Linked DNA regions of Homo sapiens: regions 1 and 3 are each linked to region 2. Evidence: fine-mapped expression QTL. A gene starts in region 2. Each other region holds a variant in brackets. All regions are shown on one strand. Distances are from middle to middle.

Region 1 (4,130 bases), 22 kb before region 2:
TCCTGACCATCCCACAGCAGCCCCCAGCCCAGGCCCCGTGGTGCCCACCTGGGCTGGTGTGCTCGCCTCCCCCGGGCTTCCCTACCCCCACCTTCCTACCCTCAGTCGATTCCTTCAAACCCAATTCAGGCCGTGCCCTCCTCTGCTCCAGCAGAGGCCTCCGTGGCTCCCACCCTGCTCAGGGTAAAACCCTGTGTCCTCTCCGTGTCCTCAGGGCCCTTCACGACCTGCTGGGTCAGCCCCGCCCTCCCTCCTCCTGCTCTCCCCTCCTCACCCTGCGGCAGCCACCCTGGCCTCCTCCTCGCTCCTCCGCCTCGCCAGGTGCGGTCCTGCCCCAGGGCCTTTGCACAGCGGTGCCCTCCCCAGACACCCCGTAGATGTCTGCACAGCTGGGCATCCCTTAGAGGTCCTGACTTCCTCCAGGCCTTTGCTAACGTTTCACCTCTTCAGGGGGCCTTCCTGGCCACCGTATGTGAAGACCCAACTCTGCTCTGAGGTTTCCTTTCTGTGATCACGTCACTGCACACTCCAGCCTGAGCACAGAATGAGACCCTGTGTCAAAAATAAAACAAGAGGCCAGGCGCGGTGGCTCATGCCTGTAATCCCAGCACTTTAGGAGGCCAAGGCGGGCGGATCACCTGAGGTCAGGAGTTCGAGACCAGCCTGACCAACATGGAGAAACCCCGTCTCTACTAAAAATACAAAAATTAGCCGGGCGTGGTGGCGCACACCTGTAATCCCAGCTACTCAGGAGGCTGAGGCAGCAGAATCGCTTGAGCCCGGGAGGCAGAGATTGTGGTGAGCCAAGATCGCGCCATTGCACTGCAGCCTGGTGACAAGAGTGAAACTCTGTCTCAAAAAAAAAAAAAAAAAAAGAAAAAGAAAAGAAAAGAAAAAAATAAATAAAACAAGAGAGACATGTGTTCACAGCATTATTTGCGGTTGTTCCGAGCTAGAAGCAGCCTAGAAGCTCTGAGTAAATCATGGCATCTTCATGGGATGGAACGTTGCCCAGCAACAGAAGTGAGTGATGGACAGCTGTCACCCACACCAGGACTGATCTCACAGGCAGGGTGGGAGGTCTCATGAGTGCACCGTCCCCTTCCCGTGCCGCACAGAAGAGGCAAAGCGGGGCCTGGCTTTACAGGCAGGATGGCGGCTGACAGGTAGAGGGAAGGAAGATGGCTGCAGGGGCTTCCGGGGAGCTGGGGACACAGTGTTGATCCCAGAGCCGGCCCCATGGGGATTGATTGATCCCAGAGCTTCCGGGGACCCATGAGAGGAAGAGCTGATGGCTCTCTGCTGCAGGGTCTTCCGCAGGCCCTGTGGACATCCCAGGTGGGGTGGTCCCGGCCACTGCAGGGTGCCTAGCGGCATCCCTGCCCCCACTCACCCCATGCCAGGAGCTCCCCCAGTCGTGACGACCACAGGTGTCCTTGGACACTGCCCAGCGTCCCCTGGGGGCAATCACCTGGGTTGGGAACCCCTGGTCTGTTGATTTCAGCCCACCATGATCTCATAGCTCCGTGTCACTGGAACGAGGGTGAGCCTGC[A/G]TGCCTGGGGGAGTGGTGAGGGAACTCAGGCAGGTGGAGGTCTGTCGGGGAGGAGCCTGTGCTAGACGCAGTGGCAGCCAGGATGGGCGTCTGTAGGGCTTCCCATGGTCATGTCTGAAGAGCTGGCTCTGGCTGACATAGAGTGGCCTTTTGGGGCTGGGAGAGGCGTCCCAGGGATCCCTGAGGAGGTGGGGGTGGGTGTTGGGGGGGGATGGGGCCCTGGACTGGGCCGTGGCTGTGAGGTGGAGAGCAGCAGTCAGCTGCTGAGTGGGCTTTGGATCCAGGAAGCGGCCCCAGGGGTTTGGATCCAAGTCAGCATGGGTCTGGAGGTGCCATTTGCTGGAGTGAGGGAAGGCTGGAAGAGGATGTTTGAATGATAAGGGGCCAGATGCCCTTGTCTTCAGAGTGACCCTGTGGAGTCAGGCTGACATATGCCCGTTTTTCAGAGGAGGAAACACATGCACAGTGGTGCAGTGATTCATCAGGGACCACACAGTGTCTAATCCAGAAACCCTGGTTCATGGGCGCAGGAGGTCTGCCTGGGAAGTTCACTGCAGGAAATTGTAAAGGAGGTGAAGTGGGAATAGCCTCGGTGCCCGTCGAGGGGCGGGGCTGGGGTGCTCGTATGATGGCGGCCAGGGTGGGTGACATTCAGACTGGCAGGTGTAGGTGGGCAGGACAGTGCAGGGCCAAGAACATTCTGGACTTGAGTCCTAGGTCCACACTCCTGCTGGCTTTGTGACCTCCGCCTCTGTCCATGGTGATAGGCATGGAACAGCTCGTGGGGTGGCGCCTGTGAGCACAGAGCTGGCAGCAGAGCCGTTCTGCATGAGTAATCTGCTGTATGCCAAGGACGCCCTGCCGATCTCACCCTGTATGCAGTAGGCGATTAATAAGTGCCCATCCACTAAGGCAGCATTTCCCCATCTTGACACCATTGACATTTGAGGGTCTTCTCTTGGGAGGAACAGCGTTGTAGTTCTCCAGTCACTAGATGTCATCAGCACTCCTGGTCCTGGCAGCCAAGAATGTCTCCAGACATAGCCAAGTGTCCCCTGGGGGCAGCAACACCCATGGCTGAGCACCATTGGCCCAAGGGATCAGTCCTAGGCTCTACTCTCTAGACCTGTGCTGCCCGACACAGCGTCCACAGGTCACAGGTGACGCTGGAGCACTGGAACTGTGGACGCTCCACACTGAGGCAGAGAGTGCAAAACATGCCAGGCTGGGAGGACAGCATTAAAAGAAGAATGTGAAATATCTCACCTGTAATGTTCATATGCAGAAATGATATTATTTTGGATATGGGGGTTAATAAAATGTATTATTAAAATTAATTTCACGTGTTTCTCTTTTTTTGATACAACTACTAGAAAATTTAAAAATGGCCGAGCATGGTGGTTCATGCCTGTAAACCCAGTGCTTTGGGAGACTAAGGCAGGGGGATTGCTTGAGGCCAGGAGTTAAAGACCAGCCTGGGCAACATAGCAAGATCCCATCTCCACACACAAAAAAGAAATTAGCCAGGGATGGTGACACATGCCTATAGTCCTAGCTACTCCAGAGGCTGAAGTGGGAAGATCACTTCAGCCCAGAAGTTGGAGGCTCCAGTGAGCTATGATTGCACCACTGCACTCTCCAGCCTGGGTGATAGAGCAACATATTGTCTCAAAAAAAAAAAAAAAAAAAAAGTAGGAGGTTCTCAGTCTGTTTCTGGTGGGCAGTGCTGCTGTGGGTGATCAACTTTCTGGCTACACCATGAGCTTGGTGAAGATGAGTTGGTCTTGGTTGCCATCATCCTTCCCATTATCCTTTCCCATCATCCTCCAATCATCCTTCTCGGTCATCCTCCCATTGTCCTTCCCATCATCCTTCTCCATCATCCTTCCCACCATCCTTCCCATCATCCTTCTCCATCATCCTCCATCATCCTTCCCCATCATCCTTCCCCATCATCCTTCCCATCATCCTTCCCATCATCCTTCCCCATCATCCTTCCCATCATCCTTCCCCATCATCCTTCCCCATCATCCTTCTCCATCATCCTTCCCATCATCCTTCCCCATCATCCTTCCCACATTCCTTCTCCATCATCGTTCTCCATCATCCTTCCCATCATCCTTCTCCATCATCCTTCTCCATCATCGTTCTCCATCATCCTTCCCATCATCCTTCCCATCATACTTTCCCATCATCTTTTCCCATCATCCTTCCCATCATCCTTCCCATCATCCTTCCCCATCATCCTTCTCATCATCCTTCCCCATCATCCTTCCCACATTCCTTCTCCATCATCCTTCCCATCATCCTTCCCATCATCCTTCCCCATCATCCTTCCCACATTCCTTCTCCATCATCGTTCTCCATCATCGTTCTCCATCATCCTTCCCATCATCCTTTCCATCATCCTTCCCCATCATCCTTCCCACATTCCTTCTCCATCATCATTCTCCGTCATCGTTTTCCATCATCGTTCTCCATCATCCTTCCCCATCATCCTTCCCACATTCCTTCTCCATCATCCTTCCCATCATCCTTCCCCATCATCCTTCCCACATTCCTTCTCCATCATCGTTC
Region 2 (4,130 bases):
GCAGCCCCGAGGCCTGTGCCTTTCCCACTCCACCTTCTACAGTTGCTTAGCCAATAAACCTTTCCTGGGCTGGAGAGCTGTCAGCATCACATGTGCTTACTCATTTAATGTGTCTTTTTTTTTTTTTTTTTTTTGAGACGGAGTCTCGCACTCCCGCCCAGACTGAAGTGCAGTGGCGCGATCTCGGCTCACTGCAAGCTCCGCCTCCCGGGTTCACGCCATTCTCCTGCCTCAGCCTCCCGAGTAGCTGGGACTACAGGCGCCCGCCACCACGCCTGGCTAATTTTTTGTATTTTTAGTAGAGATGGGGTTTCACCATGTTAGCCAGGATGGTCTCGATCTTCTGACCTTGTGATCCTCCTGCCTTGGCCTCCCAAAGTGCTGGGATTACAGGCATGAGCCACCGAGCCCGGCCTTAACGTGTCTATTGATGTCACAGAAAAGAGACCCGAACGCCGCCCTCCAGAGCCAGACCCGTAGCCCTCCAGTGGCCAGGGGGTCTGAGAGACCAGAAGAGAGACCCAGGGCGAGGGGAGGCCGGAGGTGGAGCCAAGCTTTTGAGCAGGCAGCCAGGTAGGCTTCCTGGAAGAGGCAATATTGAAGCTGGGTTTTGAAGGATGTATAGGAGCTTGAGGTATTCTAATATCTGCCATCAGTAGCTGCTTGCTATGTTTTGGATATTAATAAAGATCATCTAGGCTTCATAGCAACTCAGGACCAGGGGCATCTACTGAGAGGAAATGGTGCTTTGGAGAGACTGGACATTTGTCCTGGGGCATGCTGTGAGCCCCCACCTCAGTCTGATGTCAGGATTTGAACTCTGGATGTTGGACTGAGTTCCTGCCACTGTCTCCAAGGGACAGGAAGGAAACACACCGGGGGTGCCGTGTGACTGAGCCCTCTGTGTGCCAGGGAGGGATGGCACCTGGACCACCTTACAAACCTCCCATCCAGAAAGACCCTAATCCCGGAGCTTGGGAGGGTGCGACACTGCCCCGGGACCTCCCTGAGGGATGCAGCCTGGGAGGCATGCAGGGCGCAGAGAGGGGGTGGTGGGGCTGCTCTCTCCTCAGCCCACAGCCCTCAGCCTAGGGCCGCCAAACCTGTCCCACCCTTTACCCATTAGGTGAACACACCCCAGGACCCAGCAGCCTGGATCCCCTGCATATGCCTGGACACGCACCCAGACACAGCGTACACCCTGCGCACAACACACACACCGCGCGCAGGTCCAGCCGCGGCTCCAGCCCGACCAATCGCGCCCACGATCTGCTCCTCCCGCGGACGCGCAGGGGCTGAGTCCGACACGCGCCGCGGCAGAGACGGCCGATCGCGACCGCGCGCCTCGCTCCCCTCCCCCACCTCCCCGGCCCCGCGGGCGGCGCCGGCTGTGATCTCATCCCCTGAATTATCGATCGGGCTCCGGGCAGCCTCGCCCCTCCCTCCCTCCCCACCTGCCAGCGCGTCCCGGCCCCTCCCTTTGTTCCCGGCAATCAGCCCTGCTTGGGGCGGGGCAGGTGCAGGGGAGCTCCAGCCAAGTCGGGCCAGGAGGCTGGGTCCCGGGGTGACAGTGACACCCCGTTTTCTGGTGCAGAAGGAACCGACCCTTGAGGCCAGGGAAGGTGCGGCCGGTCTCGGAGAGGTTGAGGCTGGGGATGGAGCGACCGGCCTGGGAGGCTGAGGCCCAGAGCTCAGATGAGCTGGTGCGGGACTGGGCTCCCCAGAAGTGAGGGAAGAAGGGCCGCGACCCTCCAGCCCGCTCCCCTGAGTTACAGCCGGAGAAACTGAGGCCGGGACAGGCCGCAGAGCAGGGGCCCGGCTCCGCTCCTAGCCCCGCCCCCCCCCCCCACCCCCGAGCCGGCACTCCTGGGTTTGAGCTTCGTCTGTGAGCCCTCGGCCGCGCCCCTTCCCCTCCCCGCGCCTCAGTTTCCCCACTAAGAAATAGGGGTGACCCTAAGGTACCTTCTAGCTGCAACAACGGAGAGGGAGGGGCTGACCTTAGGGTCTGGGGTTCTCTTTTCCCTGGCCGCGCCTCCCGGGGCCTCAGTTTCCCCACTAGGAAATAGGGGAAAGAAGGGATGTGGAATTTCTAAGCTTCTCCAGCTCGGTCCTTCTGCGAACTTGGGCGGCGGGCGGGGGTGGGGGGCGCAGCGGGGAGGGTCGCTGACGGGGTTCTGGGTTCAAAGCCCCGTCCCGCCTTGGCTGCGGGTTCCAGGCCAGCGCCCGGTGTCCTCGGAGGGCCTCAGTTTCCCCAGCCTCGCGGCCAGGCTCCGGGACGAGGAGGGCCGGGGTCCCAGGGGCGCAGCCCCCCGCGGCTGCGCGCTGGGCCGGGCGGATGACATCACCGGGCCGGGGGGCGGGAGGGAGCGGGCGGAGCGGGAGGGCTTCCTCCGCGCCAGGCGCAGCGCCCGGTCGGGCTCCGTCGGGCGGCCGCGGCCATGACGCAGGGTCCGGGCGGGCGCGCGCCCCCGGCGCCCCCCGCGCCCCCCGAGCCCGAGGCGCCCACCACCTTCTGCGCGTTGCTGCCCCGAATGCCGCAGTGGAAGTTCGCGGCCCCGGGCGGCTTCCTGGGCCGCGGCCCGGCGGCGGCGCGGGCGGCTGGGGCCTCGGGGGGCGCGGACCCCCAACCCGAGCCGGCGGGCCCGGGGGGCGTCCCGGCGCTGGCGGCCGCCGTCCTGGGCGCCTGCGAGCCCCGCTGCGCCGCGCCCTGTCCCCTGCCCGCGCTCAGCCGCTGTCGGGGCGCGGGGTCGCGGGGGTCGCGGGGCGGGCGGGGGGCGGCGGGGTCCGGGGACGCCGCCGCCGCCGCCGAGTGGATCCGGAAGGGCAGCTTCATCCACAAACCCGCGCACGGCTGGCTACACCCCGACGCCAGGGTCCTGGGGCCCGGGGTCTCCTACGTCGTGCGGGTGAGTCCCCCCCACCCCCCCCGGGAGCCCGTTCGCGGCGGCCTCCCCTCCCCCACCCTCTCCTCCGGGACCCCCGGACCCCGCGAGCCAGGTGTCCCCTCCCCATCCTTCCTGCTCTCCCGCCACCCCGGACCCCCATCCCCGGCCGGCGGCCGGCGGCTGCCCCCACCCGGAGGCGCTGGGGTCCGGGTTCCCACGGCGTCACGTGGGGAGGGGCGGGGAGAGGGCGGCGGGGGAGGGGCGCGCATGCGCAGGTGCACCGCCCCCCACTCGGACTGGGCGGGCGAGGCCGAGAGCGGCGAGCGGCCGGGGCGTCTCTGCCACCGGAGCCCCCCGGACAGCTGTTCACGAATGACAGACGGGGCCCGAGACGCTGGCCTGCGGTGGGGGTGCGGGAAGGGGTGTTTGGAAAGGGGCTGGCGCCCGGACAGACCCCAGGATTCCAGATGGGAGGCAGCAGGGACTTCCAGGGCGGCCAAGGAAGCGGCCTTTGTTTATTTACCTTGGGTCTTATGATAAATGAACCTTTTCAAACACACGGGGAAGTCGGGCGCCTGGACACAGCACGCCTCCACCTAGGAGGGTAACCTTCCCCTCTGCTGACGGGTCTGCCCCTCTCTGTGGTTTATAGTAAACCGTGTGAAGTCACCTGCAGGGGTGACAGCGCCGTGCATAGTCCCCCGTCTTCTGAGAGAGCAGCTGTCCTACAGCTGCAGTCATTACGGCGTCTGGGAAAATGATCAGCCACTCCCGCACGCCACTACCGGTGGGTGCTCCCAGCTCCTCCCGGCCTCTGCGGCCAGGAACATTAGCCTGTGTTCACATTGGGTTGTGTCTTTGCTTTTCTGGACACTGAGTTCAGTAGGGTCCTTCCCTCTACACTGAGTTGAGAAGGGTCCTTCCCCTTACACTGAGTTCAGTGGGGTCCTTCCCCCTACGCTGAGTTCAGTGGGGTCCTTCCCCCTACGCTGAGTTCAGTAGGGTCCTTCCCTCTACACTGAGTTGAGAAGGGTCCTTCCCCCTACGCTGGGTTCAGTGGGGTCCTTCCCCCTACGCTGAGTTGAGAGGGGTCCTTCCCCCTACGCTGGGTTCAGTGGGGTCCTTCCCCCTACGCTGGGTTCAGTGGGGTCCTTCCCCCTACGCTGGCTTCAGTGGGGTCCTTCCCCCTACGCTGGCTTCAGTGGGGTCCTTCCCCCTACGCTGGGTTCAGTGGGGTCCTTCCCC
Region 3 (4,130 bases), 36 kb after region 2:
GCGTCAGAGCCCTCGAGCTGGTCAGAGAAACTCGAGCCATCGAGTGCCCACCCGGTGCCCAGCTGTGCTCTGGTCCTGGCGCACGTTCCTCTGGGATGCTGGCTGCTCACCCCGGACCGGGGGCTCGCCAGCGTTCCCTGCCCCTGTGCCCACACCCGGGCTGTTCTCACTTGCACTCATGCCCTTCCCGATTCTCTGGCCAAGAACTCCTACAAATGTGCCCATAGCGCGGGTCCAGGGTCCAGGGATTCCTCCACCCGCCTGCGTCTCGCACTGTCGTCCTCCCTCCCCGGACTCTGCCCCTCGCACTGTCGTCCTCCCTCCCCGGACTCTGCCCCTCTCGGTGTCGTCCTCCCTCCCCGGACTCTGCCCCTCTCGGTGTCGTCCTCCCTCCCCGGACTCTGCCCCTCTCGGTGTCGTCCTCCCTCCCCGGACTCTGCCCCTCTCGGTGTCGTCCTCCCTCCCCGGACTCTGCCCCTCTCGGTGTCGTCCTCCCTCCCCGGACTCTGCCCCTCTCGGTGTCGTCCTCCCTCCCCGGACTCTGCCCCTCTCGGTGTCGTCCTCCCTCCCCGGACTCTGCCCCTCTCGGTGTCGTCCTCCCTCCCCGGACTCTGCCTCTCTCGGTGTCGTCCTCCCTCCCCGGACTCTGCCTCTCGTGCTGTCGTCCTCCCTCCCCGGACTCTGCCTCTCTCGGTGTCGTCCTCCCTCCCCGGACTCTGCCCCTCTCGGTGTCGTCCTCCCTCCCCGGACTCTGCCCCTCTCGGTGTCGTCCTCCCTCCCCGGACTCTGCCTCTCGCACTGTCGTCCTCCCTCCCCGGACTCTTGGAACTGCGTTTCTTCCCTCTCACCCATCCTGACCCTAAGAAGCTGAGAGAATCTGTGCCCCTCTTGGTAGACTGGGAAGGCGGGGGAGAAGCCCCTCTGCCCTCGTCACCCAGCAAGGGCTAGTGCAGCCTCACGTTCATGTGGATTCACAGCCAGACCCTGTTCCAAGGCAGAGGCAGTCTGGTCAGGACCTGGCAGAATACACATGGGGTCCAGGCAGCTCCCGAGGGAGATGCCCCAAGGTTACCTGCGATGCTGTTCCGGTTTGAACCATGTGGATAGTTTTTTTTTTTTTTTTTTGGAGACTGAGTCTCATTCTGTTGCCCAGGCTGGACTGCAATGGCACAATCTCAGCTCACTGCAATCTGTGCGTCCTGAATTCAAGTGATTCTCATGCCTCAGCCTCCCAAATAGCTGGGATTGCAGGCGCCCACCACCACGCCTAGCTAATTTTTGCATTTTTAGTAGAGACGGGGTTTCACCATGTTGGCCAGGCTGGTCTCGAACTCCTGACCTCAAATGATTCACCCACCTCGGCCTCCCAAAGTGCTGGGATTACAGGCGTGAGCCACCACGCCCGGCCCCATGTAAACACTTTACACGTTCAAAATACAATTAAAAAAAGAAAGGAAGGAAAATCCTGAAATAGAACTGAGTCAGAATAAGTGACCCTCCGTGCGTCATGTTGATAGCATAATTACAGGGAAGCAGAGTTACTGTGATTATTTTTAAATGTGGAGACTGAACATACACGCACTGGGAAGCTCTGGACCCTGGGCCGGGGAGGGCCAGGGCGGGGTGGGGTGGAGCAGCGGCTGCCTTCTCCCTGGGCGTGGACGTCTGGTGCCCACAGCCCCAGCCGCACGCTGCCCCACTCTTGTCCCTGGTTGGAGCCCCGACGGGGCTTTGCTGCTGTAAGATGCTCCCTGTGGCACCTGCAGACGGGCGGGTTACCACAGGGAGACCAGAGCAGCATCCGCCCTGCAGCCAGCAGCACAGGTGGTGGCCGGGGGAGCTCCTCGTGGGACCCCGCCTTGCT[C/T]CCTGCGAGCCCCTCGCCTGGCTCCCAGCTGACCCCCTGCCCCTCTTTACACTCCCCAGCTCCACCGGGGGACGGCTACGTGCAGGCGGACGCCCGGGGCCCCCCGGACCACGAGGAGCACCTGTATGTCAACACCCAGGGTCTGGACGCCCCCGAGCCGGAGGACAGCCCCAAAAAGGATCTGTTTGACATGCGTATGTGGCAGCCTGGGGGGCGGCCGTCATCGCGTGTGGCCGTGTTGTCTGATGGGGGAGGCACAACCCCACCCCCACTCCCTACGGGATTCCCTGGTCTGATGGGGGAGGCTCCCTTCTCCCCGTGAGATCCTTCAAGTCGACGGGTGGGACGGGGAAGCCCAGTCTGTCTCCTGTCGGAGGCCTTGTCTGATGGGGGTGTCCTGGACTCTGCCTTAAAAGGGGCCAGTCTGACAGGGGAGGCCCATTCTCTCTAGCGAATGCGGCCGAGCAGTGTAATGGGTGAGGCCCAGCCCCTCCTACAGGACCCCATCTCCCGGGGCCTCCCTGCTGAACCCCCAGTCTGGTTGGGAATGCCGCTGGCCCCCGCTCTGTGAGAAGCTCCACTCTCTCGGGGGTAACCCACCTGCCTCTGTCGGAACCCCCGGTCTGAAGGGAGGAGGTTCGTCATTCCTTGAAAGAATGGTCAGTGTGGTGGGAGGCTGCGGCCCCGTCTGTGAGGCCCTCCAGTCAACAGGGGAAGCCAGACCCTCGCCCCATGGGACTCCTTAGTCTGAGAGGGGAGGCCTCGTCTTTTCTCTGTGGGAATCCCGGCCTGCTGGGACGACTGCCTGGCCCGCTGGTCTTGCACGCTGACTCTGGGTCTCCCTAGTCTGATGAGTTTTCTCTTCACGTGACTCCGGGGTCTGAGGATTCTTCCTACGGAAATCCCGGCCTGATGGGGGAGGCACAGCTTCCTGCTTGAAGGAACGCCCAGTCCAATGAGGGAGGCTTAGTCCACCTCTGGACAAAGTGGCTAGTCTGACGGTGAGCCCGTTCCTTCCTTCCCCGTGGATGACCCAGCCCGAGGGAGCCCCCAGCCGGGCGGAGGAGGCTTGTCCTTCCTTGGCTGAGGTGTCCAGAGTTCTCTCCTGATTTCCTGCAGCCTCGACTCTGCCCTTCTCCAGCACGGAGAGGTGTTGGCTCTGAGCTGCCGGGTAGGGTCCTTGCCTGAGCTCAGGATGCCTCCCAAGCTAACTGCAAATTTCTCCCTTTCCTCCACCACCTGACAAAGCAGCTTCTCCTCAGCTTCACAATAATGACACCATCTAGCACCTAGTGGGCGCCTGCTGTGTACCAAGCACTACGTGAAGAGCTTGCTCCTCTTGGCTCCTCACAGCAGCCCTCAGATGGGAAAGGAGGGGCTTGGGGCTCTGAGCTTCCCTCTGAGGCAGGCTGTCCCTCAGGGTGACCAGACTGCCAGGCAGCCCCGGTTGAGGAAGGGTGTCTTCTCGTCCGTCCTCCACGAAGAGTCCTGGGGCTGCCTCTGATTCGCCACGTGCTCGTCCCCAAACCAGTCGCTGGCTGGGAGGGGGAGGTGAACATGCTGACTGGCCAGGCTAGGAGTTGGAGCTGGCTCAGCCCCCAGGGTCAGGGCTGGAGGACCCCCCAGGACCAGGAGCTGGAGGGGCGGGAGACCAGGGAGCGAGGGTCAGGGCGGGAGGACCCCCCAGGACCAGGAGCTGGAGGGGCGGGAGACCAGGGAGTGAGGGTCAGGGGGGGAGGACCCCCCAGGACCAGGAGCTGGAGGGGCGGGAGACCAGGGAGCGAGGGTCAGGGCGGGAGGACCCCCCAGGACCAGGAGCTGGAGGGGCGGGAGACCAGGGAGTGAGGGTCAGGGCGGGAGGACCCCCCAGGACCAGGAGCTGGAGGGGCGGGAGACCAGGGAGTGAGGGTCAGGGCGGGAGGACCCCCCAGGACCAGGAGCTGGAGGGGCGGGAGACCAGGGAGTGAGGGTCAGGGCGGGAGGACCCCCCAGGACCAGGAGCTGGAGGGGCCGGAGACCAGGGAGTGAGGGTCAGGGCGGGAGGACCCCCCAGGACCAGGAGCTGGAGGGGCGGGAGACCAGGGAGTGAGGGTCAGGGCGGGAGGACCCCCCAGGACCAGGAGCTGGAGGGGCGGGAGACCAGGGAGTGAGGGTCAGGGCGGGAGGACCCCCCAGGACCAGGAGCTGGAGGAATTCAAGGCCGCCCCAGCCACGGGTAGATGCATCTCCGTCAGGGCTGGGGCTCCAGCACTGCAGGGTCTGAACC

What was found. PIP is the estimated chance that this variant, and not a neighbour inherited with it, causes the effect.
Region 1: its variant is the best candidate, but not a certain one, in a credible set for the expression of SHC2 in whole blood (TOPMed, PIP 0.71).
Region 3: its variant is the best candidate, but not a certain one, in a credible set for the expression of SHC2 in skeletal muscle (GTEx, PIP 0.84).

Annotation. Positions count from the first base shown.
Region 1 is chr19:480,885-485,014 of GRCh38, reverse strand. It overlaps a transcript of CIMAP1D not described here. Among named protein-coding and RNA genes, the nearest start is that of CIMAP1D, 8.0 kb to the right of the region's middle. The variant A/G (reference allele first, on the strand shown) is at 1,554.
Region 2 is chr19:459,305-463,434 of GRCh38, reverse strand. SHC2 (SHC adaptor protein 2) reads left to right here and starts at 2,402. Exons shown (of 13, transcript NM_012435.3): 1 at 2,402-2,906. The coding sequence starts at 2,439. CIMAP1D (CIMAP1 family member D) reads left to right here. Exons shown (of 4, transcript NM_182577.3): 4 at 1-74.
Region 3 is chr19:423,025-427,154 of GRCh38, reverse strand. SHC2 (SHC adaptor protein 2) reads left to right here. Exons shown (of 13, transcript NM_012435.3): 10 at 1,924-2,058. Among named protein-coding and RNA genes, the nearest start is that of C2CD4C, 16 kb to the right of the region's middle. The variant C/T (reference allele first, on the strand shown) is at 1,865.